Homo sapiens: one gene and its partners. The protein of the gene in region 3 interacts with the protein of the main gene of each other region in a biochemical or structural test. Each region holds a gene or a part of one and is shown on either strand. Other genes may lie near its edges. The genes, in order: CPSF1, LATS1 and WWOX.

Region 1 (3,650 bases), on a different chromosome or scaffold from region 3:
CCGCTGGGGGCGCTGGCTGGGACGGGGGCCCTGCTGCCTCAATCTCACCTCAAAGGAGTAGGTGGCCAGCTGTGTTCCCGACTGGGCCTCGCTGCCGTACACTTCAATCTCGTCCACCTCATCCTGCGGCACCGACTTACCCGCAGCTGCACACAGAGAGCCCACTTGAGCGCAGCCCTGGGTCACCTGGCCCCGCTCCTGACCAGCCCTGGACCGGCCCTCACCTGACCAGCCGGCCGTCGCATCCACTCGCTTCTTCTTTGAGGGAGGCTCTTCCTGTGAGGCAGGAGGGGCACTGAGTGGCATGCCACAGCAGTGCCCACATGAAGGGTGGTGGCCCAATGGGCCCAGGAAACCCACCTTGTCGGCAGCCTCACGGACAGCACTGGCCGGGGGCTCCTGCAGCTTCTCCGTGTACTTGAGGAGGAGGGAATTGCCCAGGCGAGAACCCAGGAACAGGTACCCGGGCTCCATGGTGACCATCTGAGGGAGGGCAGGTGTGTGATGGCTGGGCCGGGTCTGGACCCAGACCCAACCCCTAGTCCCAACTCACGCTGGTGGTGAGGACGCTGGCGGCCGCCTTGTCAAAGTGGAACGCTCGGACACTGCGCATGCCGTCGGTGATGAGGGTCAGCACGTAGCTGGGGGCAGGGAGAATTCTGAGTCGGGGATGGGGACCCTGGGGGAGTGAAGGGGGCCAGGGGACCCTACAGGACTTGTGGGGGGCGGTGTGGGCAGAGTTCATGGGCGGGGGAGGGGCTCACATCTCGCCGCCCTTGAGGGAGATGACCATCTTGTCGTAGGAGATGAAGGTGGCCTGGGCGCAGTCCAGGGTGATCCGCACACCCTCCTGGGTGCCTGTGGGGTGGGTGGTCAGGCCGACTAGGCAGGCCCAAGCCGTCCCCGGGCCCCCCCCGCCCCAGCCACCCCACACTCACGAAGCGGGAAAGCCGTGGTTCCTGTGGTGAGGCTGTTGAGAGCCACGCCATACGGGGGGACGCTCTGGTTCAGGTACAACAGCGAGTTGACGGCAAACACCACCACCCCACCTGGAGGTGGACACAGGCTGGTGGGCAGGCTCAGTGCTCTCTCCACACACTCCCCTATCCACTCCCAGGACACACACCTATGGGCTTGGGCACAGCCAGAGCCTGGGTGCAGTCAAAGGGCAGGCTGGTGAGGGACCAGATGACGGGGTGCACCTTCTGCGTGATGTTCAGTGAGATGGCCACAATGGAGCACGTGTCCTGCCGCACGGCCACGCGCCTGGGGACGCCAGTGGGTCAGCCAAGGGCCTTGCCTCCCCGCAGAGACCCAGGCCCAGCTCCTCCCGAGCAAGCCCCACCACACCCCATAGGCCCCGCCCTAAACCCCATGGGCCCCACCCCAGGCAGAGGCAGCTAGGGGGCCCACAGTGCAGAGGGGCCTCCTTAGGGGGCTCACCCAGGCCAGGTCTGGTTGGGCTCAAACAGGATGAGGAGGGTAGGCTCGTAGTAGCCATGCAGGAACTGCAGGTCGATGATGTTGAGCAGCTTCTCGTCTAGGGCCCGCACGTCGATGATGTAGCTGGGCAGGAAGCTGGACCTCTGCCTGGGGGGCCAGGGGCTTCAGCAGGAGAGGAGGGGAGGCGGGGAGGGGAGCTCGGGCTCTGGCGCCTCCCACCCCAGCACCACAGCCTGCCTCAGCTGGCACTCACCCCTCACCCACGAGCCCCTCGTGCTCCTCAGCCAGGCTCTCCCTGCGGAAGGGCAGGACCACCAGCCGCGTGCCGTAGACAAGCATGGCTGCACAGCGCCCGTCGGGGTCCACCCGCACTCGCGGCGTGTGTACATTCTGCACAAACCCGTCCTGGGGGCAGAGGGGGCATCAGCCAGGCCCAGCATAGGAGACCCCGAGGGAAACACTTGGGGCCACAGAACCCAGCTGCAGGGGGAGGGAGGGTGGCTGGGCGGGGCCTGGGCGGGGGCGGGAGCGCGGCCCTACCCGAAGCTCAGGCTCCTCAAAGTAGTGCAGTGACAGGGTCTTCAGGTCATGGGTGCCCGGGTCGTACTCCACCACAGACAGCTGCGGTCAGAGGGCACAGCCGTGGCTGCCGACTGCCGGTCCTGACAGTGTCGCCCCCGGCAACCAACGGCTGTACCCAGGCCCTGGCACCCACTCCCACGCCTTGGCCAGGCCTACCCCACCAAGCCTACCACTCACCTTGGCATCCTTGAAGCTTAGGAGCAGGGCATCCCGCTTGGCTCCTGCCAGCTGCACGCTGGCCATGGACATGACGTTGCCAAAGAAGGAGAAGGAGGCAGCAAGCTCGAGCTTCTCCCGGTGGGCCTTCCCCTCTAGGGGAGACACCAGGGCTCAGGGTCAGGGCCCAGCCATGCCTGGCACCCGCACAGCCCCAGGCCGCCCCACCACACTCACCTGTGCTCCTGTCATTCTTGGTCAGAGCCTGGAGGGGAGAGAAAGACAGGGCAGTGAGGGGCCACATCTGGCAGCTCACCTCATCCGGGGAACGAGAAAAGACCACCAAGCCTGGCCCCTGCCTCCTGGGAGCTCTGCCCAAACCCTCTCTGCAGCAGGGAGAAGGGCTTCTGGAGACAGCTGTGCACAGCCCCCCACAGCGACCCCCATTCACGCTCTCATGCCCACGGCCCAGCCCTGGCACAGGCCCCTCCCCAGGAAGCCCCTACCTCACGGCTCCCTAGCAGCCAGGCCCTGTGCGGCAAGCACTCAGGGTTAGAGTGCACTCTGTGTCTGCACACCCCCAAACCTGCCTGGTTGCACACCTACAGCAGCCCAGCCCCGGCCCCTGGGTCCAAATGTCACAGGGCAGGAAGCCAGAGCCAAGGGGTATCTGTAGCTACTGATCTGCGTGCCTGTTAGAGAAGAGGAAGCCCTGCGCTATCCTGACGCCTCGGGCTCCCCCAGGCTGCCTCTCTATCTCCTCCCTTTTCACTGCCCTCCCAGAATGATAAGAGGCTGTGTGTTCTTTGCTACTAGGTAGCTAGTTTAACTAGCTAGCAGATTTATATGCCATTGCCTCAAGGCAAGGGAAAAGTGGTTTTTGTTTTGTTTTTTTTTGTTTTTTGTTTTTTGTTTTTGAGACGGAGTCTCACTCTGTCACCCAGGCTGAAGTGCAGTGGCGTGATCTTGGCTCACTGCAACCTCTGCCTCCCGGGTTCAAGTGATTCTGCCTCAGCCTCCCAAGTAGCTGGGATTACAGGTGCGTGCCACCATGTCCGGCTAATTTTTGTATTTTTAGTAGAGACAGGGTTTCACCATGTTGGCCAGGCTGGTCTCGAACTCCTGACCTCAGGTGATCCGCCCACCTTAGCCTCCCAAAGTGCTGGGATTACAGGCGTGAGCCACCTCAAGGTCATTTTTCACGATGGACTTGTGCTATGGGGAGGGCATCTTGGAAGCTGGTTAAGAGATACAGAAGAAGCATCCACAAACCAATACCCATCTCACAGCGACAAGGGCAACTCCAGGGCTTCACCCGCAAATTCTACCAAAGGTTTCAGAAGTAATGACACACTTAAAAAAAAAACACACACCCACTCATGTGGGGCTGACGGCACCGCAGGTGGCTCAGGCCACCCCAACAGCCCACAGACAGGTGGGACAGGAAGTGACACCAACCTCCTCAAAAC
Region 2 (3,650 bases), on a different chromosome or scaffold from region 3:
CACGCATACTTTTCACAGGCTGTTGAATAGGAGCTGGTGTAATTGCAGTGACTGTTGTAGCAGAAGGCTGAGAATTAGCAGAGTGACTTGCTCTATTTCCTAATGGGTTATTAAAAGAATTTGACCTCACTGGTATGTTAGGTTGCCATGTAGGGATTTCATGCCCACTGCTCGGGGATGACTGGGCTGGAGCAGAAGATGACTGAGGCCAATTTGTTTGCAGTCCAGGTACACTAATGTTATATAGTTCCATGTTATGACTATTTCTGTTTGGCACCATCATAGACTGAGGAATACTTCCATTTGTATATGACGAAGGAGCAGCAGATCCCCCTGTTTGTAAAGCAGAAGGGCTTTGTCCATTAGCTGCTGTCAGAGGATATGGAGGTGGTGGCTGCCGATTCACAGTGCCAGCAGGGACAACATTTTGGTGTATCATGAAATCAGTTTGTCCAGTACCATTCTGCATTCCAGGTCTCCCTGATGGAAAGTTAAATTTGCTAGAACTCTGCATGATGATTGGTTGTCTGCCAACAGGAACAGAACTAATGCCTCTCTGTCCTTGATTAGGAGGATTCATGGGGGAAGTGTTGAGAGGTGGTGGAGGATAGCCCTCTTGCCATGCCCCAGGTGGGACAGGAGAGATTCGGGAGATTACGTATTCCATGTTTCCAGAATAGCGCTTTGTTTGAGAGTTTGGTTCCCATGAAGGGGGAGGTGGAGTTGTACCTCTTGGAGGGGGAGTCTGGCCTCTTGGAGGTGGTGGAGGAGTAACACTCCTTACTTGAGGTGGTGGTGGGGGGTTCACTCTCTGTCCGTTGCTAGGGTGAGCTTGAACAAATGCTGATATACCAGATCCAGACAAAGGTCTTCCTACATCTGTCTGTGAGTTGGGACTCTCAGAATGATAGGCCACACTTTCTCCTAGTGGCGGGCCATGCCTCTGAGGAACTAAGGATTCTTTAGAACCTTTCCAGCTCTGTTTGCGGTTAACTGATTGCTGCACATTCCCTATGGTTATAAGAGAGATAAAGAGAAAAAAGAATCATGTTTTTAACCTCTAATTTTTGAAAACCTTAGCTTGCAATTCTGATATTACAAATGATACTCAATTCTCTTTCAAGAATTATAAAAATATAAAAAAGTTCAAGTGATCTCTTGTACAAAATGGTGACTGTAGTTAATAACAACGTATTGTACTCCTGAAAATTGCCGAGAGTAAATTTGAAGTATTCTCACTACAAAAAAATGATATGTGAGGTAATAATACATGTTATTTGGCTCAATTTAGCAAAAAAAGAAAAAAAAGAGTTATAAAAATAAAATTTCACTAAGTGGTTTCCTTTTACCTTTTAGAATTTTATTTATTTTTGACCAGGCGTGGTGGCTCACGCCTGTAATCCCAGCACTTTGGGAGGCTGAGGTAGGCAGATCACTTGAGGCCAGGAGTTCGAGACCAGCCTGGCCAACATGGTGAAACTCCATTTCTACTAAAAATACAAAAAAATTAGCCAGGCGTGGTGGTGTGCACCTGTAGTCCCAGCCACTCGGGAGGCTGAGGCAGGAGAATTGCATGAACCAAGAAGGCCAACGCTGCAGTGAACTGAGATCGTGCCACTGCACTCCAGCCTGGGTGACAGTGCAAGACTCCATCTCAAAAAAAATATATATATATTTTTGAAGAGATATAATTTCATATATATGCATGTATATTTGTAGATAAATTATTAGAGGTAGCATTATTAGGCCAAAGGGCGTATCTATTTGTAATTTTCATAGCTCTACTGATTTTAAATATATTTTAATATATATCTATATTTTTAAATTGAGACAAAGTCTCACTCTGTCACCCAGGCTGGAGTGCAGTGGCACAGACTCACTGCAACCTCCGTCTCCCGGGTTCAAGTAATTCTCCTTCCTCAGCCTCCTGAGTAGCTGGGACTACAGGCGCACGCCACCACGCCCAGCTAACTTTTGTATTTTTAGTAGAGACGGGGTTTCGCCATGTTAGCGAGGCTGGTCTTAAACTCCCGACCTCAAGTGATCTGCCCTCCTAAGCCTTCCAAAGTGCTGGGATTACAGGTGTGAGCCACTGCACCTGGCCTTTTAATATGGTTTTTAAAACAGAAAAAGATAGTAGGCTATAATTAGCTGAATATTAAATAAAGTATAGATTTTACAGAAACTGTCTTTAACGGAATTTCCAAATCAATAAAACAAGCAAAAAAAAAAATACAATACCAAAAAAAGAGAAGTATTTAAAATAGAATAGTCCAGCCACTTAGGAAAAATATACAAGATACACTGGTATAAAGACAATACATATATACATTCTAGAAAGACTAAAGGTTTAAATATTAAAGATGAAATCATGTAAGCACTAGAAAAAAACAAAAGACCATTCAATAGTATTGGGGTACCTCTTGCGAATGTCTTCCCAGGCATGACAAAAGTAGAGATCTAAATACAAACACTCATTACCATTAAAAACAAAACAAAAAAGAATACTAATAAATTTGAAAGGTCAACATCATCCTGGGCAAAAATATATCTAACAATACATCTGAGAAAAAAAGTGGTAAAATGTGGTAAATGTTCATAATGTTCAGTTTAACACTCCCTTTCATCTAGGCTGGACAGCATTTTGGGTCTACATTCTCGAAGCAGGAGCCAGACGAAAAGCAAGTGAGTAAATAATGTTTGGGGAACATTATCATTCCGGATAAACTGGACAAGTCCTCTGGCCATCAGGCTCTTTCTCACTTTCCTCAGAGGCCAGCTGAGGCCAAATACACCATGTCACTCATTCAGCTTTTAGAGTATACAGTCACCCCTGTTGTTCTGCGCCTCCCACAGAGCTCTCCATGTTCTTCCACTTCCCGAACCTTTCCACCATGCCCTCCGGATCCACTCGGCTCCACAGCCAGCAAATGTGCCTTATCAGTAACCTCTCCTCCAAGCTTTCCTGCCACCTCCTTGAAGCTGGTTTTCTTCTGCTGATACTACTTTCCTTTCAGCCCTTTGAAATTAAGGTTTCCTTTAAAAATAACCTGGCCTAAAGATGGGGTTCTAACATTTGTTCTTACAGGTTGATATTATTCCTTTTAAAAAGCCAGCTCTTTTGAACTTCATGCTATGTGGGAGGCCACACTAATTCCTCTCACCTAATGAGCTCCTGCCTATTTGCTCTATTTCATTCAGCCACAGCTTCAGCATTCAGTCTACCCTAAGCCCTGCCTTCATCCTGTAACCTCAATAACCACGAGGATAAACCATCTATTGCCCTCATATCTCAGCTTCTTGACGTCCCCTCTTCCACTCCACATCAAGTATCATTCTCATGATTGTATTTCAAACTTTGGTATTACTCATATCTGCTCTTGTTTCAGAATAACTACTTTAAGGTTTATACGCTTATACTCCCAGACCACAACTACTTCTTCTGTTTACTCCTACTGCAAAAGTTTTTAAACTTTATTAAGTAGCAACCTCACCAAGATCTCCAAGATTTTTATTTTTTTTTTTTTGAGACAGAGACTTGCTCTGTCGCCCAGGCTGGAGCGCGGTGGCATGATCTCGGCTCAGCGAAACCTCTGCCTCCTGGGTTTAGGCGATTCTCCTGCCTCAGCCCCCTGTGTAGCTGGGATTAC
Region 3 (3,650 bases):
ACCAGCAGCATTAATATCACCTGGGAATTCAATAAAAATGTACATTCCCAGGCCCCCACCCCAGACCTACTGAATCAGCACTGGGGTGGGGCTTGCAATCTGCGCTCTAATAGTCATCCAGGGGATCCTGATGTTCCCTAGCTTGAGAGCCTCCCGTCTAGAGCAGGGGCTGTCTCCTTTGCCTGTAAAGGGCTAGATAATATGTTTTAGGATTTGCAGGGCATATGGTTTCTGTTGCAATGATTCAACTCTGCCTTTGTAGTGCTAAAGCAGCTATACACAATATACAAGTGATGGGCGTTGTTGTGTTCCAATAAAACTTTATTTACAGAAACAGGCAGTGGGCCAGATTTGGCCAGCTCCTGGTCTAATCTAGAGGAGTAAGCAAGGGCTTTGGGGGGAACCTGGAAATTGGCTCCCCTGGCTAGTTCTCACTTTTCTGAGCCTGTTGCAGTGGGGTGCTGGTAAATGTTTAGCACCAGGTCTTCAGGGGGAAAAAAGCCACTGTTTGTTTCCACAGTATAAATACTTTGGCCATAGCTGATTTCATGCTGCCAAGGTGAAGTGAGGAATTGGGAAGAGATAGTCACGTTTGGCTCTTGTAAGCCAGTTTGAGCCAGTCTAGCATAGAACTGCTCTGTTGTGTGTGTATAATATTGGGGTCACAAATTAAGGTTGTTATAAATAGAATGAGGATGAGGATGGTAATAATTAGAATAAAGGTTGGATTATTACTCTTGAGTCTTGGTACTTATAGGGAGATGAGTATATATTTTAAACTAATTTTACACACACATACTTTTAAAATATGAAATTTCATCTATATTTAGAGGCTTCTTAATAGTTTTTAAGATATTCTGAGGTCTTTATCTCATATCCCAAGAATACATTTAAGATATAAAAAGTAAATTCTATTATAAGGAGTACTCTTTTCATCCATATGTGCCTTTTTTTTTTTTTTTTTTTTAATGGTTACCCAGGGTCTTGGTCTGTCACCCAGGCTAGAGTGCAGTGGCACAATCATGGCTCACTGCAGCTTTGATCTCTTAGGCTCACGTGATCATCCTCCTACCTCAGCCTCCCAAGTAGCTGCGACTACAGGCGTGTGCTATCACACTTGAAATTTTGTTTAGTGTTTGTAGAGATGAGGTCTAACTATGTTGCCCAGGCTGGTCTTGAACTCCTGGGCTCAAGTGGTCCTCTTGCCTTGGCCTCCCAAATTGCCGAGATTACAGGCGTGAGCCACTGTGCCCAGCCTCCAGTATATTTTAATACCATTTCTACAAGATTTAGATCAATTCCAAATCAAAATGAGTGCTCGTAGGAGGTATGAGTGCAGAGTCTTAAAATGAAAATCGTTAGAATTTTGGTAGTTGGCAGGTTTCTTATTTACAACTAAGACTTTATCATTTTGAGTTTTCTACTTCTCTACGTCTTTAGGCCCTTGCACAGGGCTAAGAGATTTAATTGAAATCTACTGAAAAGAGTGGCTGACAGATCTTATAGCTACATTTACATGAATTACATAAAAGCCCAAAACCTTCTCAAGAAGCCTTTTTTGAGATCTAAGGATACATGGCAATAGTTATTGTATGTTACAGCGTATGTTATAGGCAGTTCTGAAGGAAAGGATTCGATGACTATCTTTTTTTGGCACAAATGTGATCCTTCTGGAGGCCAGAAGATAGATTCAGTGGGCCCCAGTTCTTTCAGGTTTAAGGAATAAGCATTTTGGTCTATGAAAAATGGGGTTTTCCTAAAGTATAAGATTGTCTTATATTTATAAATGCCTGTGTTCATTGCTGTGGGTTCACTGCTTTCTCTTTTGGGCAGCCATATAAATAAAAGAACCACCTACTTGGACCCAAGACTGGCGTTTACTGTGGATGATAATCCGACCAAGCCAACCACCCGGCAAAGATACGACGGCAGCACCACTGCCATGGAAATTCTCCAGGGCCGGGATTTCACTGGCAAAGTGGTTGTGGTCACTGGAGCTAATTCAGGAATAGGTAGGCTCTTCACTTAGTTATTTATCTTTGGGACTGCTATAATGAGATCCACTTAGATCTAGCTATAATGGAATTTTGTTTAGTGGTTCTCTGATTTAAACATGACTTTTATCCTTTTCAGATATCGTTTCATTAACATCACTACCTCTTTTTAAATCCTAATGTTGTCATGGAAGCCTGTGTAGGGGCTGACCTTGAAGTCTCTGAAAGCTGAACACTCAGCAAAAGACTGTGGCTATTTTGGTATTCAGGGATGAGAGACAACAGGCTCCGTCTAAGAGTTTTTGACCTGGTCTGCATGGTGTATGGGCATATTCCAATTACCTGGGTTATTCAAACCAAAATTGATTGGTAATAGAATACGGGGAACAACAAGGTATTATGTCTTTGGAACAAAGGATACTACAGGTTTCGACTGGTCACTGAGCATATCATTTTCTTTTGGGCACAGGATCTTATTTCTCTATAAAATTGGAGAATGAGTTCCTGTCTTCACCTCTTAATTGCCAATGTTTACCCACAGGGACTATCATGGGTAGATGGCTCAAGAGGGTATCCTTGCTTCAATATGATGGGCCATTAAGGAGACAGGAGCAAGGCGGGAGCAAACCATAACTCTTCATAGGATTTTATTCTGATTTTGCTTTGATCTATTTACATAAGTATCTGAATCAGTGAGAACCACCTGCTTTGAGTTTAGATATGCATCTTCAGATTTGTCGACATATGAAACGTTGCATTTGGCTGTCTTCTGTCAAGTTCTCTCTGTCCTTTTGGTCCCCCGCAGCCCTCACACGGCCCCCTTGATGCCCTCCTCTACTCATTTGTTTCTCTTTCCTAATTTTGTTTTTATTTTTATTTTTTGTGGGTATATAAAGGTGTCTATATTTATGGGGTTCATGAGATGTTTTGATACAGGGATGCAATGTGAAATAGTCACATCATGGAGAATGGGGTATCCATCCCCTCAAGAATTTATCCTTTGAGTGATAAACAATTCAGTTATACCCTTTTAGATATTTTACAATGTGCAATTAAGTTATTATTAACTATAATCAACTTGTTGTGCTATCAAATAGTAGGTCTTATTCTTTCTTTCTATCTTTTTTGTACCCATTAACCATCTGCACTTCTTTCTTAATTTTGAACAATTCCTTGAAGCTGCAGAAATATTTTCTAGCATGATTAGGGAGGCACAGGAGGTAAAAATACATTGTTCAAGGGTCAATTATTGTGTTGTACAAGGTGTGAAATCTACCAGGTTGCCATCCGAGTGGAGAATTTTTTTACTGTACTTGCCTATGAAGGTAAAGAAGCAAATGGAAATTTTTTTTTAAGAATTGAAAGGATTTTATTTCAAATCAACTCTCATACCTCATCCTGGGCTCCAAATATGTTCAATCCACTTGTCTGAACTTCTGCATTGGAGTAAATTTTATATAATTGTCATTGAAGTCAAAACTGATGGCGTAATATTTAAAACAATGGCTGGATCCCCAATCTAAGAAGAATACATTTTGTTGATCATATTAAGTACTGTTACAGTGAATGCATGGACCCATACAATTGTGGAATAATTAAGAAAAAAGGACTTAAGGGCTTAAAAATGTCTTTTTAACAATTTAACAAGTTAGCCAG

What was found.
Region 1: the proteins of WWOX (region 3) and CPSF1 form a complex in vitro, tested with the Homo sapiens proteins (one study listed by BioGRID).
Region 2: the proteins of WWOX (region 3) and LATS1 interact in a test that uses a peptide from one of them, tested with the Homo sapiens proteins (one study listed by BioGRID).

What each region holds. Positions count from the first base shown.
Region 1 is NC_000008.11:144,399,228-144,402,877, forward strand, and holds part of CPSF1 (cleavage and polyadenylation specificity factor subunit 1), read right to left. Parts: exon of another isoform or gene 3,640-3,650; intron 2,888-3,639; exon of another isoform or gene 2,688-2,887; intron 2,447-2,687; coding exon 2,419-2,446; intron 2,337-2,418; coding exon 2,203-2,336; intron 2,065-2,202; coding exon 1,984-2,064; intron 1,849-1,983; coding exon 1,697-1,848; intron 1,591-1,696; coding exon 1,444-1,590; intron 1,267-1,443; coding exon 1,127-1,266; intron 1,119-1,126; exon of another isoform or gene 1,050-1,118; coding exon 939-1,049; exon of another isoform or gene 859-938; coding exon 765-858; intron 642-764; coding exon 554-641; intron 484-553; coding exon 361-483; intron 277-360; coding exon 225-276; intron 147-224; coding exon 49-146; intron 1-48. UniProt on the Homo sapiens protein: Component of the cleavage and polyadenylation specificity factor (CPSF) complex that plays a key role in pre-mRNA 3'-end formation, recognizing the AAUAAA signal sequence and interacting with poly(A) polymerase and other factors to bring about cleavage and poly(A) addition.
Region 2 is NC_000006.12:149,683,582-149,687,231, forward strand, and holds part of LATS1 (serine/threonine-protein kinase LATS1), read right to left. Parts: intron 1,012-3,650; coding exon 1-1,011. UniProt on the Homo sapiens protein: Negative regulator of YAP1 in the Hippo signaling pathway that plays a pivotal role in organ size control and tumor suppression by restricting proliferation and promoting apoptosis.
Region 3 is NC_000016.10:78,113,143-78,116,792, forward strand, and holds part of WWOX (WW domain-containing oxidoreductase), read left to right. Parts: intron 1-1,833; coding exon 1,834-2,012; intron 2,013-3,650. UniProt on the Homo sapiens protein: Putative oxidoreductase. Acts as a tumor suppressor and plays a role in apoptosis. Required for normal bone development. May function synergistically with p53/TP53 to control genotoxic stress-induced cell death.